Linked DNA regions of Homo sapiens: region 2 is linked to region 1. A link means that fine-mapping ties the variant in region 1 to the expression of a gene that starts in the linked region. Tissue or cell type: thyroid. Region 1 holds a variant in brackets; the other region holds the start of a gene. All regions are shown on one strand. Distances are from middle to middle.

The links. PIP is the estimated chance that this variant, and not a neighbour inherited with it, causes the effect.
Region 2: it holds the start of PRKAG2, and the variant in region 1 is fine-mapped to the expression of PRKAG2 in thyroid (GTEx, PIP above 0.99).

What each region holds. Positions count from the first base shown.
Region 1 is chr7:151,688,939-151,697,116 of GRCh38, forward strand. All of the region lies in intron 3 of PRKAG2 (protein kinase AMP-activated non-catalytic subunit gamma 2), which reads right to left. Among named protein-coding and RNA genes, the nearest start is that of PRKAG2-AS2, 110 kb to the right of the region's middle. RefSeq lists enhancers at 1-1,650, 3,861-8,178. The variant C/T (reference allele first, on the strand shown) is at 3,206.
Region 2 is chr7:151,873,039-151,881,216 of GRCh38, forward strand. It overlaps PRKAG2 (protein kinase AMP-activated non-catalytic subunit gamma 2), which reads right to left and starts at 4,077. Exons shown (of 16, transcript NM_016203.4): 1 at 3,469-4,077. The coding sequence starts at 3,582. PRKAG2-AS1 (PRKAG2 antisense RNA 1) reads left to right here and starts at 4,004. Exons shown (of 3, transcript NR_038926.1): 1 at 4,004-4,102; 2 at 4,799-4,828; 3 at 5,524-6,185. RefSeq lists an enhancer at 2,820-2,939 and silencers at 3,130-3,269, 3,330-3,379, 4,142-4,571.

The sequences.
Region 1 (8,178 bases):
CATCTTCTGAGAGGAGCTATACCCATTTTGCACCCTGAACCTCCAAACTCAGAAGTCTCTGAGGAGCCCTGAATAGGAGAAAATGTGGCTGAAAATGAAGTGGAAAATCAGTGTGATAACCAAATCAAGATCACGCCTCGCTGGGACCCTGTCACACTAAAGCTTCCAGAGCATAGTCGTTTTTAAAATCTGTAATAGTACCTGGAGTTTTTTCCTGTGCTTTCTATAATTCAGCTCTTTGAGTCTGCTCTGAACCCTTGGTGGTAGCTCACTGCTCATGAACAGATCCCCTCCTGGGGGGCTCCAGTGGCCTCCCACAATGGTCCCATTCCTGAGCTGTTTATCCTCACTCTGGAGGGCTCCCTCTGATCATCCAGGCTCACGGCTCTGGATGAGGCACAGGTGGGAAGGGCTGTGGGTGATGCAGGGAGGGCTTTCAGTCACCATCCCCTCCTGGAAGTGTATCCCAAGCCATTTCCAGGTGTACAGCTCTCAGGGGAGACAAGAATGCATTGTTCTACCTGGCACGATGGGGTGTGGGCCACGTGGGGTATGGGCCACAGAAGCACATTCCCAAACCTCCACTTTGGAGAGCCACGTACAGCGAAGCAGGAGAAGGCGGCAGAGGCGGGGATGGGGAGACCGTCTGTGAGTGTGGTTCCTGCCCGGCTTTCCCCTTCCCGCCAGGTCTCCCAGGAGGCCAGGTGGCGGCTGCAGCCGGTGGCAGACACTCCCTTCCTGGGGTGCTGGCTGCAGCCGGCTGCCATGGGACTCCAACCAGGGCTCTCCTGGGGTTCTGTTGACTCAACACATCATCTGACGCCACCCCGGCAGGCCCTCTGGGTGTCAGGTGCCAGTGAGACGGGTTGGGGAGGCTGGGACGGTGTCCAGACTGCCGCCTCTGCCCCAGAGCTCGTTTCCATGGTGCCGTTCCCAGCTCCAGGAGCTCTCCTCATTCACATCATGAAGGGAGAGGCAGGGATCGTGAGCTCTAGTGGTTGTCTGCCTCCAGTGATTAATTGGTACGATTCTCCACGGAGGAGGAAGAGAAGAGGAAGGAAAGCTGCAGATGAAAGGGAAATAAGCGTCTCGTGGTGGAAACAAAAGTATTGGTTGCATCCTTTCAAAGACGATCTGGAATCTCAAACCTAGGGTTTACCTCTGCCCCTCGATGGCAACAACAATTCTGGGAGTTCAGGGCCATGATAAAAAATGACAGCATCACACCTGAATTGCTGCTAGTGTTTTTAATAGACAGGTAACCACTCATCCCGAGGGAGGTGGGAAAGGAGCCCTCTTGCTAGGGAGCTTGGAATTCCTAATGCTGCCTGTGTCTGATGGACAGTACCTACCCCTGGTAGAGCTCGCTTCGCGGGGAGGGAGAACTCAGCCCTCTGTTTGCATGATCTGAGGCTCTGGAAAGCCCCCTGCCCCCTTCCAGATACCTCATCTACTTGACAAACTTCCAAGATGCCCTGCCTCCCCTTTCTACACATTGCTCTTCCCCGAAAGGTTCCTGCTCTGTTATTCTTGGTCAATCTGCAGAAGGCAGGCCGGATACTCCACAAAGGACCCAAGAGAGGAGCAGCCGTTAGGAAGGTGCAAGGCTGGGAGGGAAGGACAGGACCAGGGTTCCCGGATTCAATTGTACCACATCATACATGTTGCCTCCATGCAATTTTCTCTTTAGTGCCAGGTTTCTAGAATCAGTGCATGAAAAATGATATCTGAATACGGTGCTTAGGGGAGCCGGGTTTTTTCCACTTCTGATTCACTCCACAGCTTCAGCATCTATTGTCAGCTAAGCTCATCTTCTGTGAAGCCCTCACTGGTTTCTAGAGTGAATCATTCCTCCTTTTCATGCACTTAGCACATTCCAATGTTATCAAATGATAGAGTGCTGGGTTGTTTCCTGATGCACCTCGGGTCTTCCACTAAGCGTGAATGGCAGTGAGTCTCGCTTATCGCTATCCCATGGGGCCTGGTGCACTGTCCCAGCTCAAGAAAGATTTGTGGAGCTTGCTTTGTACATAGTGCTCAACAAGTAGACAAATCTAACTTTAAATCTTAAGCTCTTTAAAATACGCCGTTAAGAAAATGAAACAAGAAACATGACAGAGAGAAAACACAGCTATCCCTCTGTGTCTGCAGGGAATTGATTCCAGAACCCCTCTCAGGCACCAAAGTCTAGGATGTGCAAGTCCCCGATATAAAATGGTGTAATACGTGCATATGACCTATACACACCCTCCTGTATACTTTAAATTATCTCTGGATCACTTATAATACCTAATATAATGGAAATGCTATGCAAGTAATTATTATGCTGTGTTGGTTTTTCATCTGTATTTTTATTGTTGTATTATTATTTTTATTATTTTTTCCCCTGAATATTTTTGATCTGAATTGGTTGAAGCTGAGGAGGTGAAACCTGCAGATATGGAGGGCTGACCGTATTGCAAAACACATATATGATAAAGGACTTGTAGCAGAGTATATAAAGAACTCTCAAAACTCAGTAACAACAACAACAAAAAAAACTCAGTAAAAAAAAAAAAAAAGTGGACAGAAGATTTAAACACATACTTCAGCAAAGAAGATATACAGATGACAAATAATGATATGATATTCACCATCATTAATCTTTAGGGCTATATACATTAAAACTACAATGAAACATCACTACACCTACTAGACCAGCTAACGTCTACAAAAACCTGACAATACTAAGTGCTGACAATGATTTGGAACAACAGGAACTCTCATTTGTCACTGGTGGAAATACAAACTAGTATAGCCATTTTGGAAAATAGTTTGACAGTTTCTTCTGTAGTTAAACATACATTTACCATACAACCTAGCGATGCCACTCTTAGAAGATATGAAACCTTGTTCACACAAAATCCTGAATGCAATGTTTTCAGTGGCTCTATTCATAGTTGCCCCAAACTGGAGACAATTCAAACATCCTTCAACTGGTGAATTAATAAACTGGTACAGCACTTTGGGAGGTTGAAGCAGGAGGATCATTTGAAGCCAGGAGTTCAAGACCAGCCTAGGCAACATAGTGGGACCCCATCTCTACAAAAAATTAAAAAAGTTGGCTGGGTGCAGTGGCACACTCCTGTTGTCCCGGCTGCTTGGGAGGCTGAGGTGTGAGGATTACTTAAGTCTGGGAGTTCAAGGCTGCAGTGAGTCATGACTG[C/T]GCCACAGCACTACAGCCTGGGCGACAAAGTGAGACCCTGTCTCAAAACAACAAAAAAACAAAAAAAAATGAAAAACAAACCAAAAAACTGGTGCATCTATACAATAGAACACTACTCAGTAATAAAAAGGAAAGAACTCTTAATATATGCAACACAATGAATTAATCTCAAATGCATTTTTCTAAGTGAAGGAAGCCAGGTCCAAATATATACATACTATATATTTCCATTTATACAACATTCTGGAAAAAGCAAAATTATAGCGGACAGAAAAAAAAGTCAGTGTTTGCTGAGGATGAGGGGAGAAATTGACTATAAAAAGGGATGCGGAAATTTCTTTGGGTGTTGGAATTGTTCTATGTCTTGACGGTGGTGCTGATTACACAACTGCAGATGTTTCTCAAAACTCTCAGAATAGCACATTTTTTTTTAAAAGGGTGAGTTTTACTCTACGTAACTTATAGCTAAATAATCCTGACTTTTACAACAGTGCCCTAACATGAGTTCGGGGGGGTTGTCTCTGCAATGGGGGAAGCAGGTGCTTTTCCCCTGGGCCTTGAAGGAGGGACAGGCAGGGCTCGGATGGAGACGCCTCAGCATGATGGTGGAAACCTTGCCTCCGCCTTGGGGCCCAAGACCTGCTCACATAAAAATAGCAGCTGAATTCCCTCTCCCTCTGGCCCAAAGGTCATCTCCTGAAGGTGACAGAATGGAGCCACTACCAGGGGGCGGGGGAGTGCGAGGGGGAAGGAGCGAGGTCTCAGAGGCTCAGGCAACCTGGGCCCTGTCACCCAGACAACTCCCTCCCCTCCTGGAGACAGCTGTGCTCACACAGCCTGTACCCTGCCTTCCCCTGCTGTTGGGAGAAGGGGAGGGGGCAGGAGAGAGCTGAAAGGTTAGGCTGGGAGCAGAAAGGGAGATCCCACTCCTTCACCCGCCCTCACCTTCCACCAGACTCAGTCACCCGGCGCTCCTGAGGACAGGGGTCTTTGGTATATCTCTGCATATCCCTGAAAGGTGTGGACAGGTCAATGAGTCTTCTCTACAGCGGCTCTTGGCACAGGTCCGAACATGCAGAAAGCCTGATGATGTCCTGCTGCCCAGGGCAGGCCTGAGACCCGCAGCACAGGAGGCCCAAGGCGGCCATAAGGAGACCCAAGGCCCTCCGAGGGGCGCACGAGGGGTTCCAGGGAAAAGTGAGAAGGTGAGGCCCTCACCAGGTGGCTACTCATCCCAGAGAGGAGTTTGCAGGCCTGAATATGCCCCACCCGTCCCTCCTCCAGGCCCATCACCTCCCCGGGCCATCAGCAGCCACGCTAGGCCCACGAGAGGGTTCTATGCAATGGCTGCACCTTGAGAGCTTGCTTTATTTTTAGCTTTAAAAGTTGTGTTTTAAAGACATCTATATACTGAGTATAAAAATATTTACAAATATCCAAGAAATATGTTAGTAAAACTTTCTGAAGGCTGTGGTCTGAATGTGTGGGTCCCTGCCAAGTCCTTATGTTGAATTCTACCCGCAAGGTGATGGTGTTAGGAGGCCGGGCCTTGGGAGGTGAGGAGGGTGGTGCCCCATGCCCTTACAAGAGGGACCGCAGAGAGACCCCTCCTCCTTCCACCATGTGAGGACGCAGCCAGGAGGAGCTGAAGCAGGTCCTCAGCAGACACAGAATCTACCAGCACCTTGGTCTTGGACTCTAGCCTCCAGAACTGTGAGAAAGAAATTTCTGTTCTTTTTTTGTTTTGAGACGGAGTCTCGCACTGTTGCCTAGGCTGGAATGCAGTGGTGTGATCTCGGCTCACTGCAACTTGTGACCCCTGGGTTCAAGCAATTCTTCTGCCTCAGCCTCCTGAGCAGCTGGGATTACAGTTGCTCACCACCACACCCAGCTAATTTTTTTCTATTTTTAGTAGAGACAGGGTTTTACCATGTTGGCCAGGCTGGTCTTGAACTCCCGACCTCGAGTGATCTGCCCGCCTCAGCCTCCCAAAGTATTGGGATTACAGGCGTGAGCCACAGTGCCCAGCCACAATTTCTGTTCTTTATAAGCCACCCAGTCTATGGTATGATTACGGCAGCCTAAACAGACGAAGACGCTGAGTTAGCTAATTTGTTGATCCAAACAGTCCACTCTTTTTAAACATTTATTTTTGATTTTGTTAAAATGCACACAACCTAAAATTGACCATCTTCAAGCGCACAGTTCAGCAGCATTAACCACACTGCTGTGCAGCCCCCACCACCACCATCTCCAGAACCATTTCATAGTACAACACTGAAACTCTGTCCTCATAAAAATAACTCATTTCTCCCCACCTGCAACCCCTGGCAACCATCTTCTACTTCCTGTATCTGGGAATCTGGCCACTCTAGGGACCTCATATGAGTAAAATCTGGCAGTGTCTGTCCCTTCATGACTGCGTTCTCTCACTCAGCACAATGCCCTCAAGGTTCATCCACAAGGCAGCACCTGTCAGAATCTCCTTCCTTTTGAAGGCTGAATACTATTCCACCACATCTACACACAGCACGGAGGGCTTTCTCTCACAATTCCCTCCCGGCTTTGCCATCGCTTTGCTATTGCTCTGTGTCTCCCAAGAGATCGCTGCCCCTCCTAGGTCTGCAGCTTCCCTTTCCTGTGGTGACAGCAACTATGGTTGCTGCCTGCATGGCCTGGTGTCCCCATGTGCCCCCAACACCGAGGGCCAGAGCAAGGAGTAAGGACATCCGATGCAAACACCGCACCCACACGTTTCCTGGGGATGCCCCAGTCCCTCCGGGTCAGAATCTGTCAGCCTGTGCCCATGCCTGTCCCTTCCTTCTGGGCCACGGTCACAGGACTTGGGTCAGCAGGCCCGGGCAGGGAGGGAGCCCGGGACAACGCCAGACATTCCTGCCTTCCTGCAGCCAAGTTTCCGATGTGCTGTTGGAGGAATCCTGCCAAGGGTAATGTGACATTTACATGATGCCTGGTGGGGCTGCCCAGTGACATAACAGGGGGGTTGGGGGTGTGTCTCTGGGCACAGAGCCTGCAGCCCGGCAGAGTCTGATGACACTGTGTTGTGTAAATTGAAGCGACAGTCACCTGTTTCTCTAAGTCATGGCTCAAACCTGTTTCCTCTTATGTGACCATAAAATCACACCGCCTGTCACCTTGATCTTTGGGACTCTTCTGTCTTCCTTCTGAATAAAGCTACTTGATAAACACCCATCCACTTCCTGCAGGGGGAGAAGGCCAAATGCCCTCAGGTGCATTCTTTTGAGAGAGTCCAGAGAGCATGAGCCCAGCCAGAAGTAGGCATTTGTGATGGCCTTTCTGTGCACTTGTGCACACAAACTTTCTCGTGTGGGTGCCCTAAGTGCCGGCATTGTGCAGGAAGCTGTGTTGGGGGCTGGGAGCACAGTGGTAGCAGACACCATCCCTGCCCTCTTTCAACTGATTTTGCAAGGACTTCAGGAACACATTCTAGCACAACTAACTAGAGCTGCTCACTTATGAGCAGAGCCTCAGTTCAGCCATCAGTGAAATGGACAAATCAAATAGGAACTCTTGAATGGGCCACCTCCCCTGGGCAGCAGGGTGGCGTTGCTTCCAAGGTGTGCTTAAAGCCGGCTCTCTTCTTTGTGGTCTGAGCAGAAGCTGTAAGGCTAGGCCCTGGCCTTGTTCTTAGCTGTCCCTGGCCTACAGACCTTTGAACTAATCACTCTTGGTGGTCTGAATTCTCTGTAGACAGGTGGAAACCGTAGGCACTGTGTCCTCCAGACCTCAGCACAGCAAGAACAGTCTGGTGTTCATCCGGGCAGAGGAAGCAGACCCCACCCTGTGTTTACACGACACCAGCTCTTCAGGGGTCCGAGGGGGCGGGCCTGATGCCGGCATAAGGTTTGATGTTGCCAGCTAGAATCGCCAACACATCCCCGGAAGCCCAGTGGCTTAGCCTCCTATCAGTGCCTCCTCTGCAGCCCCTGCCAGGGCTGCCAGGAGCTCAGCCGGCCTTTGTTCTATTTCACCCCAACCAAATACCTCCTCCTCCTCCCTTCTCCTTATTCGTTAAAATTCAGCGCATGATACTGGCAAGCTTCAGCCGCAGCTCACAGCACTTTCAGAGGAAAACGTGGCGCGCCCGGGGCCTTCTCACAGCCATCGTGCAGCCGCCTGGGCAGCTCCCAGCTCCAATGGCAACTGGTAGCATCAGGAGAGTATGGGGTTCCCCAGTGGGGCTCCGGGGCAGCGCAACGCCACAGGACCTTGTGGTGGATGTGGCAAAGCATCTGCTCTGGTGGCCTGGGGCAGGTGAGGAAGTGAGCGCTTCTCAGGAGCAGAGCCAGGTCGTCTCTGCAGGCCCAGGCCTGCCGGCGCCTCAGCCCTGACGCCATCATCTCTCCTTTGACTGAGAACAAGGACCTCTTTCCTTGCCTAAATAGCCTACGGCTAAGAGGAAATCACCCCCAGTTACGAGAGGTTTCAGGAAGCCCCCCGCAACCTTCCACCCACCATCATCAAACTTTCAAAAGCAGAGAGTCTGGGATTTGAAGCCCCTGTCTGAAAAGTAGGTTTCAGATCCATCGGAAGGCAGGGTCAGGCCAAACCTCTCCTCTCAAGTCAGATAAAAACGATCACACCAGGGAGGAGAGGCCTGAAAAGGGGCAGCTGAAGGGAAAAAGAGCTGGAGAGTGGGGAGCAGCCCGGAGTGTCTCCTCTGGCTGGGAGGGGCCCTGTGGAGCTGGCAGCAGCAGCTCTTGGGAGCAGACAGAAGGCCGCTCCTTAGGACCAGGCGCTGCCACCTGCAGGCTCAGGCCCTGTTCACCTGCCGCAGATTCCCCGAGAGCCAGGCAGAAAAAGTGGACCCTGCCCCCAGAGCGCAGGCCCAGGGAGAGGCAGGCAGGTGGCCAGTCTGAGTCAGCGGGATGGAGGCGCCTGGCATGGGGAAGGGGTGTGTAGCCTGGGAGGGGCCTTGGGCGGGAGCATCC
Region 2 (8,178 bases), 180 kb after region 1:
GATTCATTGTCTACCTGAAATCTAGATTCAACTAGGCATCTTGTATTTTTAGTTACTACAGCTGGCAACCCTATGTCCAGGTCCTTCCTGATCCAGTCTCAAAGCATTTCCTATGACTCTAGCTCTCAAACCCTTTCGCCAGGAGGCGTGGCTCTTCACCTGGAAGCAGCCATCCCCTCCCGCCCGATTCTGTGGGGTGCTCCCACTGGTTCCTTAGTGGGAGTATCACCCCCACTTCTACGTGACTCCTGCCTGCCATCTCTGGGTGTAAAGTCTCTCTAAACACATCAGGCCACTGTCATCGCTCCTTCTGCCTCTAGAAACAGGTGTGGTCTGCACTGGCCATCGTATGACCCTGGATCATTTGCTAGCCTTTGTCTGAAAGCCTCATTTTCCCAGCGAGGTTATAACTGCCACCTAGCCTGGCACAATGATCCATAGGTAATGACCATTAGGCAGATGAGGGGACCTCCCTGGTACCCAAAGCAACTGCAAGCCCTGTGAGGACTTGGGCAGATCTTCCCCAGATCTCACCCTAACCAGAGCCTGGGCACGTGGTCACCCTCAGCCACTGTGGAATAACTGAATGAATACTACTTTCGCGGTGGGCTGGCTCATGCCAAGAACGTTATGAAAAGCTGCCAAAGTCACCACTGGCAGCAAGAAGGGTGGTCCGAGGACCCCAACTATAACATGGTTTTTCAACGTTCACGGCCTGGCCTCACAGTCCTTTTTCTGGTTCTGGATTTTGTCTCACACTATCGCTGGCACCACCCCACGGGCACGCCCACACATCACTCACACCCTGCATTTGGAACCAGCCTCAGCATGTGGCTGCCACACAAAATGGCCCAACCACTGGACAATGGCATGTTCTTGTTTCTCTCTATATATTTTTTTAAAAAACTAGGTGTCTGATGTATATGTATATGTATATGATGTATATGTATATGTATATGATGTATATGTATAAGTATATGTATATGATGTATATGTATATGATGTATATGTATGTATATGTATATGTATATGATGTATATGTATATGTATATGATGTATATGTATATGATGTATATGTATATGTATATGATGTATATGTATATATGTATATGTATATGATGTATATGTATATGATGTATATGTATATGTATATGTATATGATGTATATGTATATGTATATGATGTATATGTATATGATGTATATGTATATGTATATGATGTATATGTATATGTATATGATATATATGTATATGTATATGATGTATATGTATATGTATATGATGTATATGTATATGATGTATATGTATATGTATATGATGTATATGTATATGTATATGATGTATATGTATATGATGTATATGTATATGTATATGATGTATATGTATATGTATATGATGTATATGTATATGTATATGATGTATATGTATATGTATATGATGTATATGTATATGATGTATATGTATATGATGTATATGTATATGTATATGATGTATATGTATATGTATATGTATATGTATAAGCCATACATTTATAGGACACTTTACACTTGTCAAGAGTTTTCCCGGGATGGGTGTGATGGCTCACGCCTGTAATCCCAGCACTTTGAGAGGTCAAGGTGGGCGGGTCACTCGAGCCCAGCTCATGTGGACCAGCTTTGGGCAACATGGTAAAACCTCATGTCTACAAAAAAAATAAATAAATTAGATGGGTGTGGTGGCACATGCCTGTAGTCCCAGTTACTCAGGAGGCTGAGGTGGGAGGATCACTTGAGCCTGGGGAGGTTGAGGCTGCAGTGAGCCATGATTGCACCACTGCATTCCCACCTGGGGAGCAGAGTGACACCCTGACTCAAAACAAAAAAAACAATAAAAAAGAGTTTTCCCATGAATTACTTTATTTCAATATCCGTATAAAGCAGGAAAAATGGGTATTATTTCCTGCATTTGACAAATGGGAGAAACAGTAGTTACACGGTTAGCTCAAGTGATCACTGTTTAAGAGGTTTGTGGCAGCAACATCTAACTTTTAACTCACGAACATGGTTTTAAATGTCTTACATGAGAGATGTAAACAAGAATGTTTCATTTTCAAATAGAACACTTATTCCTGCATAATCGAGTCACCACCGTGGGGGCCACACAGCAGCCAGGGGTCCAAGTTTCCAGCCCCAGAGCTTTCCAGCCAGGGAGGGCTGGCCCAGGGCCCCTGTGGGGCTACTTGGCATCAGGTGTCTGGAGACCCGCCCCTGGACTCCACCCTCTTCACCCAAGCGTTAGGCACGTGTGGGCCGGAGTTTACACAGGAGGACCTTAGCGGGGCGTCTAAAAGAAGGGTGGCTCAGCAAACACGGGGCAGTGCGCCCTGGGATTCACAGTGGGAAGTGAGTGGCCTGCCTCGGCCATGCCAGCTGCGCCTGACCCTGTCGGGAAGGATTAGCTTTAATGAGGGGTCCGGACAGCCCATTCACTGCGCACTCCCACCCTGCCCCGGGAGAGCAAAATAACTTTCTCTACGGAGCACTCTGGTGTGTGTGTGTGTGTGTGTGTGTGTGTGTGTGTGTGTGTGTGTGTGTGTGTACACAAACATTTACTTGGTTGGCTGAGGCGGAGGGTGTGACCCAGTGGGCCACACCTCCCACCGCCCTACCCCGCTACGTGGAGGCGAGGAACAGTGGCCGCGGGCTACCGGGGCGCCTTCCGAAAAGAGAACCACTACGCGGCCCGCCGCCCCTCTGGCTGGACAAAGTGAAGCCGCAGGCAGATCCGAGTCGCCAATGTCCTCCCGGGCGGCTGGCGCGGACGGGGCTGAAGTTCAATGCAGCCTGCACGGATTAGGGAGCTCCGAGCCCCCAAATACCACAGAGACCCAAAGTACACTCCCGGGGCGGGGGAAGGGAACGGCGGCAGAGGAGACCCCCGCTCCAGGCCCAGAAACGCCCGGAGAGAAACTGGAGCGGAGGGGGTGCATTGGAAGACGCAGCTACACAGCTCCCCCCAACCCCCGCCCCGCTGCTTTCCCCACCCACCGCCCCTCCCCTCTCCTCCCTCCCCTCCCCTCTCTCCGTCTCCAGCAGCCGAGCGCGGGCTCCACCTCCCCGGAGCGCAGTCCACACCGTCCCTTTTCAGCAAAACAACACAACGCACCGCCCCCCGCACCCGCACCCGGCTGGATACCGGGCTACGCCCAGCCGCCCACCCGCCGCGCCCGGCGCCCCCTCTAGTCTGCAGCCGCCCAGCCCCCGCCCCAGGCGGAGCCCCAGCCCTGGCTGCACGCGGGCAGAGAGAGAGATTGAGCCCCGGCTCCGCCAGCCCAGCTCGGGCCCTGTCCCTCTACCCTTTCCCCAAGCCGCCCGAAGTGACAGGAGGGGCACGCACGGCGCGCGCGGGGCGTCCAGCGTTAACCGCTTCGGCGCCGGGGACGGGAGCGACAGGAGGGCTGGGGAGCAGGGGACCGAGTGCTGGGACTCACCGGAATGTGCACGCGCAGCGAACGCCTCTTCTGGCTGGCATTTTTCTTGCCGCCGCTCCCGCCGGGGCTGGAAACATCTTTTTTCTTCTTGGTGTCCATAACCGCGCTTCCCATAACTCTAACCAGAAGTTGATTCTGCGAAACTCCTCGGGGGTTCGGTCCCCTCCTTCCCTCCCCCGGCCGCTGCCTTCGGACTGGAGCCGCGCGCTCTGTTACACCCTGAAGCCACCTCGTGGGGACTTCCGCGGAGAGGGAGGGTGAGCAGGGAACTCGCGCGGCCGCCGCCGCCGCCGAAGCGCCGAATTCAAGCGTCCTTTCCTACGGAACCCTCGTAGGCAAATCAGTCAAAGCCCGTCCCGGTTCTGGTGTCTCCCCGGGTTACTCGTGGCTGAGGTCTCCCGCTGGGTGACAAAGTTTTCTTCCTTTTGCAAAGCTAAGAAACATTTTCCACCCTCTCGGCTCCTCCCACAGATTCCCAGAGGTAATCTGAAAGGCAGGTGCAATTAAAACCAGCAATTTGGAAAACAAGCCTCCTATGCCTGTGCCCAAGTGGGGAATCTGGAACCAGTAAGCCCGTTCGTGCATAAATGTAATCCTCGGCCGCAGAATAAACCAGCTCGGAGCCTGCAGCTGGGTCCGTCCTCCTTTCTGGGCGAGAGGGAGGGCGGCGGGGGAAGAGGAGGTGCAAGGCGAGCCCTCTGCGCAATTAGGCTACGGGCGGCCGCTGGCAGAAGTTCTGGCGGCGGCGCTCGCGGCCCTGCGCGCCGGAGGGGGCGCCCGGAGTCCAGCGGGCCAAGAAGGGCAGGGCGCCCGCTCCTCGCCCCCCGCCGCGCCGCGGCCCCAGGGGACCGCAAGGGGACAGTGAGGGGCCGGGCCTGGCACCGACGCAAGCTCGGGGAGCGCGGGTGGTGGGAGGCGGCGCGTGTTGAACAGGAAGTGCGCGGCGTGCAGCGCCACCGTCCCGCTCCCCGTCGCCCCACGCCGCCCTCGTCGCCGCGCCCAGACCCCTGCGGCGGCCGCAGCCGCTTGGGACTCGCTGCGAGCTGGTTTCGGATCCATCCCGCCTCCCGGCGTCTCACTGTGTGCCCTACCCTTTGAAACACGCCCCCGCGCCCGCCCTGCCGTAGACCAGGCAGCGAGGAAGCCCACAGTCTCCGGGGGCGCTGCGCGCGAAGTAGCACGTGCTTCTCGAAACACCGCAGCCCCCGGGTCCCGCCCCGCCCGGCGCGCGCACTCGAACCCGCCCAGAGAGCGGTGCGTGGCGCTGGGTGCGAGCAGGGTCTAGCCACCCCCACCCTCACCCCACCCCACCCCACCCTGCTTTTTTCAGGTTCATCAAGGTTTGCGCAGTGGATCCGCGGTAAGTGCGTGTCCCCACGCCGCGGGAAACGTGGGGCTCCTGAGACTGCGGAAAGAATTGGGAGAAGGGGAGGGCTCGAAGACCCGGGCGAGGGTTCCCGGTGCGGCCCAGGTCCTTTAGAGCCCCGGGTGGGCATCCAGTACCGCCTGCTGCCGAGGGCCCTAGAGGGGTTGGGGGAGGGGGCTGGTGTGTCCCCCACCCCCAGATGCGCCCCAGGATGGCGCGACCTCGGCTCCCTGGTGGAAAGTAGGGGGAGTGCTGGCTTGGGGGTCGCTTCCCCTCCTGCTCTAGTTTCTGAGGATGTGATGACCCCAAAGGTCATTGGCGCTCCCAGAATGCTGACGTCAGCTCAGCCGCTCCGAGTAATCAGTAATGCAGGGAGGCCACCCGCAGAAAGAACGCGACAGGGGTCGCTTTGGGGACACCATAGGGCCTTTACTCCTTTTGAGGTGCGTGCTTTCGCAGGACTCCCTCCCCAGAGGAGGAGGCATGATCAGCCCACCCAAAGGATCATCTCTTAGGAAGCAGGCGTGCGCCCACGCAGGGAGAAGCATCCTTCCTTTCAGCTGCTTGCCGGGTGGCTTTTCCAACCCGAGTTCCAGCAGCTTGCACAAAATCCTTACAGCTTGGGTGGTTCCCTGGCTCATAGGGGTGGGTTTATATTCTTTCTCCTTCTCCTCTGCTCTCTGGTCCAGAATGAAGCCAGCCTGGAAGATCCCCAGTCTCGAGACAGAGCCTGACAGGGGCAGATGCACTGGAAGGACCCTGTCTGGGTTTAGCAACCAAGCAGCCATCCTGGCCCCACAGGTGTGGGACTTCTGGGTCTTCTCCTGGCTGGCTTCTTGCTAGAGGATTTCAAGAGACCCAGCAAGACTGTATTGTCCCACTGAATGCTCAAGATATTGGTTAGAAGTAGAAAAGGGGAGGGGGTAGTATTTAGCCTCTGTCCCCACTAAAAATTATTCCCAATTGTCATTTGTGTCATCTGTTTAGCTTACAGTTTTAATCCTTGTCAAAATGATCATTTGCCAGGGTGCATAAAACACCCTATTTGATGAGAACTGGTTTTAAAGGAAAATGGGGCCATCAGAAGGAAGCCGGTTGGTGTGAAGAGACGTCTGGGAAGAGCCCCTGGCGAGGGCCCTCATTCCACTGGGTGACCCAGAAGGAGAAAACCGCGATGGCGCTTCTCATTTGAAATGTTTTCTTTATGGACAGTGTTTAGCAATTGTTATAATGTGTACTTTTGTTGATTGATCTGTATACATATGTAAAATAATTTGTTCTCTGAGTTAATTTTGTTGGAACAAAGACTTTAGTGCTTCCTACATTAAAACATTTTACTGTATTGCCTGCATTTTAAGAGCCTTTTTTTAATTTTTAATTTTTTTGGTCCTTGTGATATGACGAGGTATAAATTCTGGGTTTTGTCCAGGGTTCCTGGCTTAGCACTCTCGTCGCCCTCATCACAGTCTCTTGTTATAATGTTGGGGCGCTTTAGGCCTCAGACACCCCAGGAAACAATCTCCTCTGAACTTCCCCTGCCCTCCTTCACCACCTCACCAGCCCAAGGCAGGACTCTAATCCTCCCTCATCTTTCTGATTGTGGGACTTAAGACCCTCTATTCAGAAGGGGTCCTGCCCCATTCCCGAGAGGAAGAAATCCTGCACGGAAAGGCCAATAACGGTCGGAATAGGCAGGACTTGTTTGGGTGTCCACACTTACTCAGTCACTATTGGATCATACCTTTTTGTTCGATCACATTTCTGCATGGTCGTCAATCGTGTCTGTCCAATGAAGTCTCCTTAAGAAGCCCAAGAGGTCTGGGTTTGGGGGCTTCTGGATCCCTGGACATGTGGAGGCTGCTGGAAGACGGGGTGCCTGGGAAGGGCATGGAAACTCCGTGCCTGTTCTCCCTGTACATCCCATCATCTGTGTTCTTGGTAATATGCGTTATAATAAACCAGTAAATGTACATTTCCCTGAGTTCTGTGTTCCACTCTAGCAAATTAATGAACCTGAGAGGGGGTTGTGGGAACCCCAATTGAGAGCCCAGCCTGTCGGTCAGAAGCTCCGGATGCCTGGACTTGCAACTGCTGTGCGAAGTGGGATGGGGGTGGGGTGCCTTGGGGATTGAGCCCTCAACCTGTGGGATCTGCCACTATCTCCAGGTAGACAGTGTCAGAAATGAGTTGGAAGACACCCTGGTGTCTCCTGCGGAACTGATTGCTTGCTTGGCAGTGGGGAGAACCCCCAACACACACATATGGTGACACGAACCTTCCGCGTTGATGATTGTCGTAGCGTGAGAGCAGAGGAAAAAACAATTTGGGATTTTTCCCTTCAGGGTTCTATATATGAATATTTCTGAATTATGGGGGTTGCTTATAGATGATGTCAGAAGAAGTTTACCTGCCATTTTTTTCCTTCTAGAGATACATTAACAAATTGATCACATATCTTCTGACTGGTGGAGTCTCAGAGTGGAAGGAACACAGTAATTGTTTTGATTTGAGGTGTTTTCTGAAAACCCCCGTCTTCCCCTCCCGTTGGTGTGCACACAGTTATTTTAGCCAGGAGCTAAATGTCGCGGGCCCACGCGACGTTGTTCATATAATGACCCCTGACATTCACTCTTTCTCTATGCCCTACCTATGACCTCCTTCTCAACATTAATGCAGTAAAATCTGTGCTGAACAAAAGGCCAAAACTTTAAGTAAGGCTCTGACAATGTCACTGATTCTGCCTTTTGCCTCCGGTGCCAATATTGCTCGGCTCAGCACTGTTACTGATCCTGTCTTTGTGTAAAATTCTAATGTTTAGAAATATATTGCATTACATATTCTTTATCTTGGTGACTGAGTTTTTGGCACCCCCTTAAATTTTGCACCTGAGGCCAATGCCTCATTCACCTCCCCCTCGTCTTCCGAGAAGGATGAGAAGGAGAACTTGGCCAGGCCTGGAGCTGGGGCTGGGGCTGGGGCTGGGGCTGGAGCCGGGGCAGGGGCTGGGGCTGGATCTGGGGCTGGGGTCAGGGCTAGGGCTTAGGCCAAAGCACCCAGCTTGCTTCAGCCAGAGGAGCTGCCTCTGACCAGCTATGCAATGGGGGCAGGTCCCTTAGTTCCCCATCTGTAAGAGAAGTGGGATGGTCTTCAGAATATTTCTGTGGCCTCTTTAAGGGAGCTTGTATTTTTGTCCTGATTGTATTTGGTATGTCTTTGTTAATTGTATTGCTCTAGTAATTTATTTTTTATTGAATTTTACAAAGTATCATTCCACAGTAAGTTGGAAATTAAAAACAAACAGAAACAACTAAAAAACCACCCAAGGCCCTTCCTACAGATGGTTT